Regions from separate parts of the Homo sapiens genome. Here region 2 is linked to region 1. The links come from fine-mapping of genetic effects on gene expression. A gene starts in region 1. The other region holds a variant in brackets. All regions are shown on one strand. Distances are from middle to middle.

Region 1 (8,341 bases):
CAGAGAGGAAGCTGATCTTTCGAAAAGTCATGCTGACAATCATGGGCAAGCTCTCCTTACCTACTAATTCATTGGCTCTCAAAGCCTGCTCTGTTATCTCCAGTTCCTGGCTAGCTGTTTCTGGATGCTAAAATAAAAAGAAGCACCTCCTATTTCTTTCTTTTCTCTTTGCTGTTTGTTGAAAATAATTAGAGACAGATTATATGACCGTGGCTTTCCCCTGAGTATATTGCTGGGGTTATTCAAAAACATTCCTGCTGCCTGATACCTGAACTGACATACACACTAAGTGATGTATTTATGAGTGGCAGGTCACAATGCAATTGTGTAAACGTTTGTAGAAAAAGCAGGATCCAATTCTTTTACTTAAGCTGGGAAATGGTTTGGTTAGACAGAAGAGAGAAAAGCTAAAAGATCTGCTTGATATTTACATTTTGTCCTGATAGTAAGGAGCTACTAACGTAATCATGTGATGAAGTGTGGCTTATTTGGGGGACAATAAAAGCCATGATAGAGACTAAAGGGTGAAATATTTGATCTATGTAGTCAGAGCAAATTACAGAGGGCTGTGGATGCTCGGATTAAGAGTTTACCTTTAGTTCTCTTTTTATTGGAGCACCACTGGGGGTTTATGAGTTAGGGTACAGGCTTCCTCAACCTCAGCACAATTGACATTTTTGGCCAGATAATTCTTTGTAATGGGAAGGAGGGGAGGCTCTGGCCTGTGCATTACAGGATATTCCGTAGCATCCCTGCAGCTACCTACTAGAGGCCAGGAGCATCTACCCCTTATCAAATTAAGACAGCCAAAAATGTCATCAGACACTGCCAAATGTCCCCTGCGAAACAAAATTGTTGACTGATTGAGAATTAAAGAGTAGAGAATGATAGAATAATTGGTGTTTGAGAAGGACTGTCCAGCTGTGGTTGTGCAGAATAAACAGGATGTTAGGACAAGAGCCTGGGAGAATATATTAGAGGCTGTCTCTTTACCTTAGGTATGGTATATTGTAACAGTAAGAGCCTCCAATGAAGTACATTTCTCTGTATCCCTGTTTTTTTTGTAGTCCCTTCCCACACTGACTTAGGGCTTGGCCATGTGACTTGCCAATGTGACTTGTCAATGGAATATCAGCAAATATGACATAAGCTAAAGCTTGAAGAGCACTTGTACACTGGGGCTTACTCGCTTGGAACATTGCCACCATGTGACAAAACTCATGCTAGCTTCCTGAAGACACATGGCCCAGCCAACAGCCAGCACCAGCTTCCAGAAAAATGAGTGAGACTCTATAACCATCCAGCCCCAGTTGAGTCAACAAGAAAACCACCTGAGAGATCCCAGGCAAGCCAGCAGACAAACCACCTAGCTGAGCCCTGCCCAAATTGATGATAATGGAATTATGAACAAATAAAATGGTAGCACTTTTAGATCACTACTGTTGTTATGCAGTGATAAATAACTGATATCGGAGGTCTGAAGTATATTAATATTGGTAGAAATAAGAATAAGAAAAATGCATGCACAAGACATTTGGAATAATTTGTGTGTTTTTTGTTTTTGTTTTGTGTTTTTTGTTTTGAGACATAGTCTTGCTCTGTTGCCCAGGCTGGAGTGCAGTGGCGCGATCTCGGCTCACTGCAACCTCTGCCTCTCAGGTTCGAGTGATTCTCCTGCCTCAGCTATCCAAGTAGCTGGGACTAAAGGTGCCCGCCACCACGCCCAGCTAATTTTTTGTATTTTTAGTAGAGACAGGCTTTCACCATGTTGGTCAGGCTGGTCTCGAACTCCTGACTTCAAGTGATCCACCCACCTCAGCCTCCCAAAGTGCTGGGATTACAGGCATGAGCCACTGTGCCAGGCCAATTCGTGTTTCTTGATGACTCTTCAATGAAGGGGCTTAGGGAAAGGGCAAAGCAGGTCACAGAACATAAGAATTCAGAAAAAATGAGCACAAAGGTCAGAGTAAAAATTCAGGAATAAAGTTGTGCAAGCAATCTTCAAAAAAGCACTTCTTCCTAAGCAGTTAAAAACATGAAAGCATCTATTTTTAAAGACATAGATATCCATTAGTTGCTAACAGTATAAATATAATAATAGTTCAAAGATTTAGTTTAATAAGTATATTTGTAAAGCTTTAAAGGCATTACCAAGCCAGCTACTTTTAAATTCATATGGAAAAATCAATCTTTAGAATAAACAGGAAAGCACATAAGCTCAAAATCAATAACAACTTACATTGCACTAATGATAAGATTCATTGTATTAGCTGTCCAACTGTATACAACTATATTCACTTAGCAATTAGGTTGCTAAGACCAGGACTTCTAATGGAATGCCTCTCATAATTTACCAGTTAAATTTTCAGATGGGGGTTATCAGTAGTAGTTACAGTTTAATAGAAGCTGTTAGTGTTGACCATGTTTATTGTACAATTCAAGAGGAAATAGTTCCCCAGATGTTTAGCACTTAGCTTTATGTTTAAGAACACTAGCCTAGTAGGAACGTGTCAGTAATATCCCTTACTTAATGATCACATTTTTAAAAAATCAAAGTAATAAACGATAAAGAGAATCCAGAATGAGATAAAAGAAAAATACAGAGTCAGAAAGTCTAAAATGTGGAGGAAATGGATAATGTAAATAAAGTAAAAATGAGCCAAATATATCTTCACAGGCTATGAGAATCGCCTAAAGGCACGGTTACATAAGCCGTATGACAGACTGAGGGTCTCCTGGAAAAGGATGGAAAAAGTGTTTAAAAGGATCAAAATGGGTGGATTTTAAAGATCTCATATCCATTAAGCAGTGTTAAAGAAACAATAGTATTGTCGAAAAAAGTGTTTAAAACCAAAGGGTAACCTACCTTTGGATATGTAATTTCCATAAAGTTTGTTTAAGTAAAAAAACCTACAAAACGACCTCAGTCTTTGTTTAAACAATGCTGTCTGCCAAACGATTTTGTTTATCAAATTTTTTCTCAGGTTTTGGAGACAAGGATTGAGAAAAAATGTGGAATTGGAGATCTGGAAGATCTGTGTTTAAGCAGTGGGACCTTAACGTTAGACGCACAAAAATGCGTTAACGAAAGCCAGTAAAATTGAGAATGGGGTCTTCTGGTAAATCTTGTACTTTGGTTTGTAAGAAACTTCTATATAAAGAAGTTTATCAAGTTTCGGGAGTAAGATAATAAAATGCACTTAACCCATTCGGAATCCTACCCCTACCTACCTTACCTCTGTGCGGTTAGCTTCTGACGCGCGCGCCAGCACGTTCTGTGGAGAAGCGGAGCGCTGGGCTCTACCTGAGCAGCGCTTACGCCGAAGGGCAATGCTCCCCCCGAATCCCAGTTCCGGCCAGCCAGGTCTCCCCCACCTGCGCGGCAAGCAGCGGTGGACTCCGGGGCGTGGGAACTGGAGAAGCGGTGGCGCGCGCTCCTCCTCCCTGGCTGGGCGGAGCTGCACCCGCCGGGAAAGTGGCGAGAGCCACCTCGGCGCTTGGGCGCTCAGTCGCAGGAGGCGCTCCTTGGCGGTGCCTGGAGCCCGGGCGCACCCCACCGCTCCCGGGACCTGTTGGGGGCTGGCCCGAACCGTCGTCGAAGGGAGCCGCTCGGCCACCCCCGACGTTCCTCGCCCCGCCCGACGTTCCCTCAAGTGGCCGAACCAGCCGGACGAGCCAAACTCGCCGGGCCTCCCGGCGGCAGCAGGTGGCCCCGTCCTTCCAGGGAGGGCCCTGCGCCCCGCGGCGCTCCGGAGCCCTCTCGGCCGCCCCCGCCAGGCGGGATGGAGGCGGATGGGGACGGAGAGGAGCTGGCCCGGCTGCGCTCAGTCTTCGCCGCCTGCGACGCGAACCGCTCGGGGCGCCTGGAGCGCGAGGAGTTCCGGGCACTGTGCACGGAGCTGCGGGTGCGGCCGGCCGACGCCGAGGCAGTATTCCAGCGGCTGGACGCCGACCGTGACGGCGCCATCACCTTCCAGGAGTTCGCGCGTGGCTTCCTCGGGTCCCTCCGCGGGGGGCGGCGCCGGGACTGGGGTCCTCTGGATCCCGCGCCCGCCGTGTCTGAGGCGGGGCCGGAGACACACGACAGCGAGGAGGACGAAGGCGACGAGGACGCGGCGGCGGCGCTGGCCACCTCGTGCGGCCCGGCGAGTCCCGGCCGGGCTTGGCAGGATTTCCAGGCGCGACTTGGGGACGAAGCCAAGTTCATTCCCAGGTGCGAGTGTGAGCTGGGGGCGGGAGGTTATTCTGGCGCTTCCTGCTTGCTTCTTCCCACTTACTTGCAGGTGTGCAGACCCAATGGCCCCCCCCCCTAGTCTTCTCTGTGAGTTGCTTGTCTTCCTTCACCTACTCGCTTTGACTTTTCCAAGATCCGCTAGAGTTAAGAAAAAGGAGTCAGAGAGTCAGCGTTTGGGGAGAAAGTTTTACGTGCTGAATCCTGAGCCTGCAAAGGGCGGCGTGTTCATTACAGGAGCTCTCCTGAAATCTGCAGCTGCTGGCGCCCCGCGCGAGTTTAGGCGCGCGCGCCACATCTCACCGCGTCCTGGTTACGTCACCTTCTACCCCAGGCCTTAGGCTCTCACCCCAGGGCTGGGGCCCGGGCTGTTTGCCAATTTGGCGTCCTCTGTAATAGTTTTCTGATTTGTCGTTTTCCTAAGACTATAGAAAAGGAAACTTTGTTGGGCTTTTACATTGCTGGACACAAATATTGATTGATGTACCTGCTAGGCATTTTACAGAGTTCACGCATTTAATTTTCATAACATCCCTAGAAGGTAGGCTAGCTTATTTCTGAACTTAGACCTAGAAATTAGACAGACGTTAAGGGACTTGCCCAGTTAAACAGCAGAGATTTGACCCAAATTTTGTGAACTGAAAAACTCACTTTTTATGTGACGGAATAAAATGATAAAATGACACAGTATATTCTCTGCTCTTACTGCTCTGACAGAAATAACGTGTCAAGTCACGGACTTAATTATCAGGAGGTAAGGGGATGCCTGCAGGTGGGATTTCAGGGCCTGGAGGGAGAGAGGCTCAGATTTTCTTTTTGAGTTTCGTTTGCATTTGTCCATGCCTTGGTGTGGTGGGTGTCTCCAGCTGCTATTTTTCACTTCATGCCCCAGCGATACACACATTTCAGTGCTGTTAAGTGTTTTTCTGCTTTATGTTTGGATTTTAGCTGAAATTTTGCTGAGCTCTGGCTGTCGTTATTAAGACGCTCTGAAAGGCATCATTTTGGTTGGCAGTTTGCACATCTGAGACAGAACATTGAAAAGGAAGTATCCCTGGAAGGTTGTCAGTGTGCTTGTTCATTGGAAGCCCTCACTTCCTTCTCCTCCCAACTTCTCCCTCCAGCTTGGAAAGTAAGGGGAATATTGGGCATGGAGAGTGACTCACTGCCATAGAAGGGTTGTGTAGAGAAAGTGGGTGTGTAACGATCTTTTCTGTTATTTACAAATGAGTTACTCCCCAACCAGGGAAGTAGCAAAATTTAAACACTGCTACAACCTATACTCTTTATTTGAGTCATCTTTCATCTGTAACTTAGTTTGGGTGCAGCTAGTTAAAAAAAGTAAGAATTTTAGGAATGAGGCAGGGTGAGTCCACATCATATTGGATATGATGTATGCATACATGTGGATCTGTTTTTCACAGTTGTCTAGTCTCAGCAACAAATATTTCACACACAACCTTAAATGATTGAAATGACCTGGGTCAGTGTACAAACCAGGAATTAATATTATTGGTGGAATTATTATTATCATGTTGCCTTTCCAAATTCTTCAGAGATTACTACATTTAATGGGCACCGGTGTCACCTGGTAGACTTGTGTCCTAAGCCTCACCTCCTGATGTGAGATTAACAAGTACAATATTTGTCTTCCTCTCATGTTCAAGTGGAAGAGATCTAAACTGAGTTGCTGCATCAGATTGTTACCATGGCAGCCATCCGCTGTTTTGGTAAATTGGATTAATTCTACTTCACTTCCTCATACAGCTGTTGACCTTTTCTTCCTTCCATCCAAATGTGATTTAAACACTTTTTTGTTATTGATAATGCTGTCGGCATTATTTCAGCCAAATGTATTCCATAAGCATTACCAATTGCCTGCCATATGCCAAATACTGGCTTAGGTACTGTCCTAGGTTGCTGGGGACAAAGAGAAGGATAGTATGTAGTTCATGCCCTCAAGATGCTCATGGTGTGGATGAAACATTTTTCCAGCAACTTCATCGAAGAACATTTAAAGGCAAAGAACATTTGTAGGAAACTCCCTGTATTGTGGACATAGCCCAACAGACGGCTGCAAGCAAGAATTTTCTTTGAAGTCTTGAGCTTTTCTTTAAAAAGTGATTAAGTTGTTCATCTTTGTACACAATATTTTGGGACTTGTTTTCATATAAAATAGAGTTTCTTCTGAAGGGAGAATTGTCTTTCTAGGAAGGTGTGCCATTCCAACTTGTGGCTTTGTTTCCCACCTGGCACTCAATCTTATCCCTGGGGACAGTCTGCCCCAGGGCTATCCTGGGGAGTGTTCACATCCAGTTTGAGAGGAACGGATATTAAATAGGAAAATGTTTGGTTCCTATAAAGGCAAAGCATGACACTGTTGATTTTCATTTAAAGAATCTTTCAAGCAAAATATTAAGCAATTTTGGGTTAAACTCGCCAGTCATCAGTAATCGTGATGTTAGAGGGAAGATAATATTGCATCATGAAGGGATGAAAGTAGCTTTTGGGATATGTGTCATTGTTGAGTTCATTTTCTCTTAGAAAATTGAGGGACTTTTTGTTTTGAAGGCTGAGGAAGGAGTGTCCAAGGAGTTGTGTGACCGGGTAAGCTGAGCCTGGCAGATATGAAGGGTCTGCAAGGTCAGGATGGGCCTTGACCACTTCCTGGTCAGTTTGATAAGGTCAGCCAACAGGTGAAGGCAGCAGGACAGTGTGATTTAGTTACATAAGAGAATTTGGGAGGACAGGTGCTACCAGGCCAAGAAAAGTCCTGGAAGTAGGAAGAAAATGTGTGGGTGTTGAGGGTGGAGGGGCAGGGCAGAGAGCCAACTTATAATGTAGCCTTGCCAGTTTCTGATGCCTGGGTCATTGTCTTGGTGAAAGGGAGTTTCATACTCAGGAGATACTCAGTAAATGTTTGCCAAATGAATAGAATAAATCAGTATTCTTTGATTCTTGTTTCATATATCTGCATTTTGAGAGAGAGTGTAGTTCATGCTGTGAGCATTTTCTCCACTTCTTTTGCAGGTTCTCTCACTTTTTTTTTTTTTTTTCAGTTACTGTTGTGAGCCAGTCTTGGTGTTCAAAGATTGCCAAGAGAAGGAAATAGGCTGTGTGTGTGTGTGTGTGTGTGTGTGTGTGTGTGTATTGAGCATTTGATGGATGGCTGAGAGCAGGGATGAAGGCCTCTTCTCTGACCTCTAGTCAGAGCTGAAACTTTTCAGTTTTTTCTCAACTCCCATTTGCAGCAATTTTGAGTGTTATCTGTGAATTGATTCATGCTGATAAATTAACTTAGAAAACCCCACATTCTCACAAACAGGAATGTGAGGGTGCAGCTGGCACTGGAACCACTGAGGGTCTGTGAGTGGGCACAGGTATCCCAAAAGTATCCAAAGGAGGGACAGCCTCAGGTCAGGTACCTGAGGGTGTGGCAGGTATAGTGATGGGTGACCTGCCAGGCAGTGCTAGGCTAGGATTTGTTGAGACGTCAAAATCAGCACCGTTAGCTGTTTCACATGGTTTGCGATGTTTCTACATGCACGATGTCGAAGGGGATTCTTTTATTTGGTAATTTAAAAACAAATTTAATTGAGAGGAACCAAAACTTTCCATATGTGAATTGTATAGAGATTGGCAAAACGGCTTACCTTATTAAACTCAAGAGGAAAGGCTCACCCATTGGACAGCAATCCCATTTAATTGGGAAATTTTTAAAAACAAGTAGCTGCCAGTAGGCAGAGGCGAAGTTTCAGTATTGGTGAGGGTTGCTTCTCCATTTCCCTTTCTTGGGTTCTAGTTTAGCCCTTTTCAGAATGATTGCCTTGTTTTGTAATAGTGTAGTTGCTTCACAGCTCCCTTAATTTACATGAAACGGTGCTTGACAAGATAGAAAAGGGAGAGGAGAGACAGAGGCAAAGAAAGACATAAATACGGCCGGGCGCGGTGGCTCACGCCTGTAATCCCAGCACTTTGGGAGGCCGAGGCGGGCGGATCACGAGGTCAGGAGATGGAGACCATCCTGGCTAACACGGTGAAACCCCGTCTCTACTAAAAATACAAAAAATTAGCCGGGCGTGGTAGCGGGCACCTGTAGTCCCAGCTACT
Region 2 (8,341 bases), 300 kb after region 1:
ATCTGACAAAGGGCTAATATCCAGAATCTACAATGAACTCAAACAAATTTACAAGAAAAAAAACAAACAACCCCATCAAAAAGTGGGCAAAGGACATGAACAGACACTTCTCAAAAGAAGACATTTATGCAGCCAAAAAACACATGAAAAAATGCTCATCATCACTGGCCATCAGAGAAATGCAAATCAAAACCACAATGAGATACCATCTCACACCAGTTAGAATGGCAATCATTAAAAAGTCAGAAAACAACAGGTGCTGAAGAGGATGTGGAGAAATAGGAACACTTTTACACTGTTGGTGGGACTGTAAACTAGTTCAACCATTGTGGAAGTCAGTGTGGCGATTCCTCAGGGATCTAGAACTGGAAATACCATTTGACCCAGCCATCCCATTACTGGGTATATACCCAAAGGACTAAATCATGCTGCTATAAAGACACATGCACACGTATGTTTATTGTGGCATTATTCACAATAGCAAAGACTTGGAACCAACCAAAATGTCCAACAATGATAGACTGGATTAAGAAAATGTGGCACATACACACCGTGGAATACTATGCAGCCATAAAAAATGATGAGTTCATGTCCTTTGTAGGGACATGGATGAAGTTGGAAATCATCATTCTCAGTAAACTATCGCAAGAACAAAAAACCAAACACCGCATATTGTCACTCATAGGTGGGAATTGAACAATGAGATCACATGGACACAGGAAGGGGAATATCACAATCTGGGGACTGTTGTGGGGTGGGGGGAGGGGGGAGGGATAGCATCGGGAGATATGCCTAATGCTAGATGACGAGTTAGTGGGTGCAGCGCACCAGCTTGTCACATGTATACATATGTAACTAACCTGCACAATGTGCACATTTACCCTAAAACTTAAAGTATAATAAAAAAAAAAAGAAAAAGAAAAATAACATCTACCAAAATCCTACAACTAGCAACAGACTTAATGGCAAGAGACTAAATGCTTTACCCCAAGATCATGTGTAAGGTGAGAATGTTCATTTCCACCACTCTTATTCAAAATAGTGTTGACAGTTCTAGATACTGAAATGAATCAAGAAAATGAAGTAAAAAACATACAGATTGGAAAGGAAGCGGTAAAATTGTCTCTATTTGCAGATGACATGATTGTCTATGTATAAAATTCCAAGGAATCCACAAAAGAATACCTAGAACTAATAAGTTCAGTAAGGTCATAGCATACAAAAGAAACAAAAAAAAACCAAATGTATTTCTATATTCTAACAATGAACATGCGGGAATCAAAATGGAGAGTACAATACCATTTACAGTCACTCCAAAGAAAATGAAATACACTTAACAAAACATATATGGCGTATGTATGCTGACAATTACAAAATGCTGTTAAAAGAAATCAAGGAAGACCTAGATAAATGGAGATATATGTGGTGTGCATGAATTGGTAGACTAGATATAGTAAAGATGTCAGTTCTGCCCTGTAGTGATCTATACGTTTAATGTAATTCCTAGCAAAATCCAAGCAAGGGTTTCTATGGACATAGATGAGCTTATTCTAAAATTTATATGGAAAGGTACAAGCCGTAGAATAATTAAAACAACCTTGACAAAGAAGAATAAAGTAGGAGGAGTCACTGTATCACATATTAAGGCTTACTGTATAGCTACAGTAATCAAGACAGTATTACATTGGCAGAGGGAGAAACCCATAGATGAGTGAGACAGAATAGAGTATCCAGAAATAGGCCCACACAAATATGTCCAATGGACTTTGGCAAAGGTCCAAAAGCAATGCACTAAAAGAAGTATGGTCTTTCCCACAATTGGTACTGGAGCAACTGGACATTCATAGGCAAAAAAAAAAAAAAAAAAAAAAAAAAGCCTCAACTGAAACCTCACACATTAAACAAAAATTAACTCGAAATGGATGGTGGATTTAAATGTAAAATGTAGACATATACAACTTTTAGAAAATAAAAACATAGGAGAAAATCTTCCAGACCTAGGGCTAGCAATAATTTCTTAGGCTTGACACCAAAACCATGAATTAAAAGGAAAAAAGAAAAAAATTAATAATTTGGACTTTATCAGTATTTAAACTTTTGCTCTCTAAAGCCCCTATAAAGAGGCTAAAAGGAAAGCTGCCAACTGGGAGAAAATATTTGCAAACCACCTATCCAATAAAAGACTAACATCTAGAAAATCTAAAGAACTCTCAAACTCAGCAGTAAAAAACCAACAATCCAATTAGAAAATGAGCACAAGTCATGTAGAGACATTTTGCCAAAGAGGATATGCAGATGACAAATATGCACAGGAAAAGATGTTCAGCATCATTTTAGCCATGACAGAAATGCAAATTAAAAGTATAATGGGCTGGGTGCAGCGGCTCACGCCTGTAATCCCAAAACTCTGGGAGGCCGAGGCAGGCGGATCACCAGGTCAGGAGATCGAGACCATCCCGGCTGACACGGTGAAACCCTGTCTCTACTAAAAATACAAAAAAAATTAGCTGGGTGTGGTGGTGGGCGCCTGTAGTCCCAGCTACTCGGGAGGCTGAGGCAGGAGAATGGCGTGAACCCAGGAGGTGGAGCTTGCAGTGAGCCAAGATAGCGTCACTGCACTCCAGCCTGGGCAAGAGAGTGAGACTCCATATCAAAAAAAAAAAAAAAAGTACAATGAGATATTACTACACATCTATAAAAAAAAAAAGTAACAACACAGAATGCTGATGAGGATGTGAAGAAACCAGATCACTCATAATAGTTCGGCAGTTTCTTATAGAACTAAACATGCAATTAGCACATGACCCAGCAATTGCACTTTTGGGTGTCTGTTCGAGAAATAAACATGCTCACACAAAACCTGTACATGAATCTTCATACCAGCTTTACTCACAATAATAAAAATGGGAAATAGCCTAGATGTTCTTCAGCTGGTGAATAGTTAAATAAACTGTGCTACATATAGATTGTGGAATAGTACTCAACAATAAAAAGGAATGCACTGTTACATACATACCATAGTATACCACTTGACAATAAAAAGGAACAAAATATTAATGTATATAACAATTTGAATAAATTCCCACAAAATGTATACTGAGTAGGAAAAAACAACAAATCCAAAAATGTAACATAATGTACCAATGAACAGTTTTCGTTCATATAACATTTCAAAATGGCAAAATTGTAAAAAAAGGAGAGCAGATTAGTGGTTGTCAGGTAGAGATGGAAGAGATTTGGATGAAGGCAGGAGATTGTAAAAAGGCACCATGAGGGATCCTTGTGGTGATTCAGTGTCACGACTGTAGTAGTGGATACACAAACCCACACGTGATAAAATTGCACAGAACTAAAGGCACACTAAAGATACGTGCACACGTTCACTTAAAACTGAGAAAATAAGAATGAGTGAATTGTCAGTGTCCTGGTTGTGATATTAAACTATAGTTTTGCAAATATTTTGGGGGGAAACTGGATGAAGTGTCCTCGGGATCTCTGTGTGTCATTTCTTACTATTGCAGACGAATCCAAATTATTTTGAAACATTTTAATTTTTTTTTTTTTTTTTTTTTTTTGAGACGGAGTCTCGCTCTCTCACCCAGGCTGGAGTGCAGTGGCATGATCTCGGCTCACTGCAAGCTCCGCCTCCTGGATTCATGCCATTCTCCTGCCTCAGCCTCCCGAGTAGCTGGGACTACAGGTGCCCGCCACCAAGCCTGGCTAATTTTTTGTATTTTTTAGTAGAGACGGGGTTTCACCATGTTAGCCAGGATGGTCTTGATCTCCTGACCTGGTGATCTGCCCACCTCGGCCTCCCAAAGTGCTGGGATTACAGGCGTGAGCCACCGCGTGGGCCCGAAACATTTTAATTTTTAAAGTTATTGAAAAAAATGTGATTGGGATTATCAGAAAGCCAAAAGGGTACGTCACCTATAAAACAAGAACAGATTGTTAAGAAATGAACAGACAAGACACAAATATTCTTAGAATATGAAAACATGATTGCTATAACAATATTTAAAGGTTTGATAAATTTCAGAATGTGGAGCAAAAAGAAAGGGAAAGAAAATACCAGGACAAAAAATGAAAAAATATAGAAGATTAGTCCAGAGAGAGAGCAAGCAGAGAGAATGTAGAGGAGGAAACTATTAGAGAAATAAATAACAGGATCGAAACCCCAATGCCGGGAGCAGTGGCTCACTCCTGTAATTCCAACACTTTGGGAGGGCGAGATGGGTGGATTACCTGAGATCAGGAGTTTGAAACCAGCCTGGCCAGCATGTTGAAACCATGTCTCTACTAAAAATACAAAATTAGCTGGGCGTGGTGGCACATGCCTCAGGAGGCTGAGGCAGGAGAATCGCTTGAACCTGGGAGGCGGAGGTTGCAGTGAGCCAAGATCTCGCCATTGCACTCCAGCCTGGGCAACAAGAGCAAAACTGTCAAATAAATAAATAAATAAATAAATAAATAAATAAATAAATAAA[TAAAA/A]ATTACAACAAAGGATGAATTTAAGAAACACACACACACACCCATGAACACATACACGCACACAGAGTCATATTTTGAGCAAACCAAAATCAAACAAAATTTGGGAAGCTTACTTCTTATTCACTTTTTCTGAGGATATTACTCAAGCATATAGTCCATCACTAAAAGGGGGAAACGTGGAAATTATGAATCCAATAAGATGAAATCCCGAGACAGCAGCTAAGCAGCAGGCTCACAAAACAGCGAGCCCAAATTAGAATGTGGGGTTAGTGGGATGCGAGTAAATATCTTCAAAAGATGGAGATGTTTATTAAGCAAAGGAGAATCAGAAGAGCCTGCAGATGAATTAGGCACACCATGATAGGTTATAACTCTTTCAACTGTAAGAAAAGAAAGTAAGAAATTCCAGGAAATAAATACACAATCATGGCCCAAATACAAACCAAACCAAAATATGGAATGATTTTAATGCATGTACAGGGAAAGAAAAAACAGATTTCATCAGGGACTGTAATTTTTACTAGAGACAGTAACTGATACTAGGAACACTGTGATTTCAAGGACAGAAGGAAGGGTGGTGGGAACCGCAGACAATGAAATGTGACTATGACATAGTCTTTGACTTTCCAATGAGCAATATTTATATAGTTATAATCCTGCTAAGATATTTAGTGCCTGTCAATTTTTATAATCAACATGTAGTTAAAACAAGAGCTATACTTAAATGTTTAAAATAGATTGGAAGATGGGAGGGAAATGGAAGGATAGATGTGTTTTAAATTCTTGTTTTACAAGTTGGGAATTCAGTCTATATTTTCAAAAATGTATGGAACACAAAATGAGGGCTTATGGATTTCATTTTTAGTTACAAAAGTAACAATTTGAGGCAAAAAAATAGTGATATAGCCATCAAAAATTGAGAAGAGAGGAAGAAGATATTAAAAAGTATTCTTTTCAATCAGTAAGACATTAAACTGAGAATAGCTAAAGCCTATACATCAAGAATTAGTCCTAAAAATAGATCACTCAGATCCGTATCTAACACTCAAAAAAACTAGACACAGAAATAGTTAAACATGATTGCCCTTGGAGAGTAGAAAGTGGGGAGGTGACAGACTCTCACTTTATTTTATAAGCCAGTCTATTCTATTTGATTTTCTGCTACATGCATATATTACGTTGATCAAGGAAAAATATTTTATACAAGATTCTCTAGCTGTAACCCCATGGGAGGCTGTGGCCCAGTATCATCCTGCAAGGGGATGTAAAGTAACACGAGGGGTATACACTTAGGAAACATCTGCCATTGCGCTGAAATGTGGAGAAGGGAACAATAAAAGCCACAAATGAGAATTGCAACCCAAACACCACATGCGGAAACAGCTGTGTTAATTCTGACAAATTCTGTTTGACCTCATCCATCACTGCAAAACACCTGACTCTATCAGGGAAAAAAAAAATTCTTGCCTTTGAGATATTAATTCCATCTTATCAGTATAGGTCCATGCACATATTGAGTGCATGATGGAGATTAGATATCACTGGGGTAATTTCGGTGTGATTGCTTTGACAGTCCTAAAGCACTCTACATTTATAATGGCTAGTTATTCTATGTAGGCACTGTAATATCAACTCTCATGAGAGACCAGGAAAATAAATGATTTCTACTCTGATGCACATACATGCTGAAATAGATTTCTACAACATAGTCATTTGTTTTTATTCATCCTTTAAAATACATACCTCTGGTTACGTTTGCAGGCTACCTCTGTCATTATTCCCTTTAGCTCCTTTGCTTCCTGTAAAAAGCTGTGAGAGAATACAGCCTGTCTGATCTTGGCAGCCTCTTTGATGGCCTGGTCACTGAGCTGGGGTCTTAGAGCTGATGGCTGCCACATGGGGAGTGGAAAGCCATCTGGGTTCTGGGCCAGCTGGGCTCCCTGATTTAAAACAACCTCAAGGAGCACGGTAGGTGGAGCTCAGGTACCACTTCACACTCTGCCGTTTAGAAGGATGTGGGGCTGCTTTTAGGTGATCCTTTCTATGCAAAGAACTTGCCTCAGAGTTGAAACTCATGCAGATGTGAATAAGTATGAAGACAGAGCTATTCTTGAGAGGAGGCTTTAGGCCCATCCTGTCAGTGGGAGAGATGCAAAGGTGCTTTGGAAGCTGCTTTTGGGAAGATCTGGAGTCATTCGAAGAAAACTACAAAAATGATAAAGCATTTCTGATTGGATTTACCATACCCTCCACTCTCTCAGGAACAAAATTTCTACTGCATTTTGATTATTCTGCCAAATTACAGATCTGCAAGCTTTGTGTCTTTAGGAGCTCTTTTTGTTTTACGTACATGAACTCTGGAGTCAAATTTTGGCTCAGGCACTTTTTGTAATCTTGCACAGGTGAGTTAACTTCTCTATGCATCTAGCTATATATATATATGTGTGTGTATATATATATATGTATATACATGTGTGTGTGTGTGTGTGTGTGTGTGTGTATATACCATATCTGCTAACTGGGGAGAATGAGGGGTATAGGAGATAACCTGTGTGCCACTAAATAATAACAATAGCAATCATTTTTTTTTTCTACAAAACTTACACTAGGCACAGAAAATGTGAAGACAATGCCTTGAGATTTGCAAGTTGCAAATGGGGGTTTGAAAGTGAGAGCATGGTGAGGAGATAGCATTGAATACAAATCATTGGGGTTACTTTCTAGACATCGCTCTACAGGACACCTTCCATAGTTCAGTCATCTACACTGCCTTGAGGAGAGGCAGGGACACAAGGTGAGAGAGCAAAGCAGCTAATGTTCCATCTTGGGCTTTTAAAATAAGCTTGGGATGCCAGCCTCAGAAACTAGCAAACCGGCTTTGATAGCCAAAACTTTTCATTTGCAAGAGTGACTTCGAGGAGAAAAAAAGGGGAGTGCTCTTACGAATCCAAGCATAAAGCCCTCTAGGAGAGAATGTGGCAAGTGTGTGCTGTAGCAACAGATTACAAAAGAAGACTGAGAGATTCAGACAATGCCCTTCCTGCCAAGAATGGACAAGATTAGGGTGACCACATAACCTAAGGTCCAAATGGGTCACTGTTGAGAGTAAAAGCGGCCATTATACATCATTTTACTGGGTCCAAACAGGCAGAATAGGACTGACCTGCGCAAATTAGGACATGTGGCCATCTAGTCAAGGTGCACTGGGCTGGGAAAAGGGAACAGGAGCTGGATGGGGGGGAGGAATGAAATCTGGAGCACGACTTGGAGGAAAGCAGGATCAATAGAAAGAGCCCAGCACCATCTCTTGCCAGCACCAGAGGGCTGTGGGAGACCACAAAGGACCAGCAGGGCATCCATCAACACTAGAGTTAACCCCACTTGTCACCTGCCTGATGAGCCATGTAGCCCTCTGGGGAGAGCCTTCCACCTGTATCTGCCAGCATATTGCTGGTGCATCTTCCAGCAGCCATGGTGGCCGCTCGTCCCGTAGACTTTGCTGAGCCACATTCAAATTTCCCCACATGGCCATTCTGTCAACAGCCCAGGACATTCAGAAGCCTCCAGGAGGAGAGAGACATATGGATGGGGGAGTCCCCAGCATCCACACTTGGATGAAATTAGACTGTTGGAACCCACCTCCTGTTATAACAGATTCTAGCTGAATTTCTTCAGCAATGGGAAACAGCAGCAGCTGGGGAGGTGATGGTGGGAGGTGGGAAGATACTAGTTTAAAGACAGAGAGGCTTTGAGATCTTCCCAGCCTAAAAGAGCAATATAGCTTATCTTAAAAGTGAGTTTATTTTACAGAACTGAAATAGACAAAAGAAAATAGACACATGAAAAGAAT

Direction of the effects. Alleles are on the strand shown, and positions count from the first base shown. SD is a standard deviation of normalised expression in the study named.
In carriers of allele A in region 2, the expression in iPS cells of the gene that starts at base 3,508 in region 1 tends to be higher than with TAAAA alone (moderate effect, 0.45 SD a copy in HipSci).

Evidence for each region. PIP is the estimated chance that this variant, and not a neighbour inherited with it, causes the effect.
Region 2: its variant is fine-mapped to the expression of RASEF in iPS cells (HipSci, PIP 0.95).

What each region holds. Positions count from the first base shown.
Region 1 is chr9:83,058,309-83,066,649 of GRCh38, reverse strand. It overlaps RASEF (RAS and EF-hand domain containing), which reads left to right and starts at 3,508. Exons shown (of 17, transcript NM_152573.4): 1 at 3,508-4,213. The coding sequence starts at 3,783.
Region 2 is chr9:82,761,943-82,770,283 of GRCh38, reverse strand. The region is part of intron 2 of LOC107987087 (a long non-coding RNA gene); the gene reads right to left. The region is part of intron 1 of LOC124902188 (a long non-coding RNA gene); the gene reads left to right. It overlaps LOC124902189 (a long non-coding RNA gene), which reads left to right and starts at 6,521. Exons shown (of 2, transcript XR_007061609.1): 1 at 6,521-6,893. The variant TAAAA/A (reference allele first, on the strand shown) is at 4,488.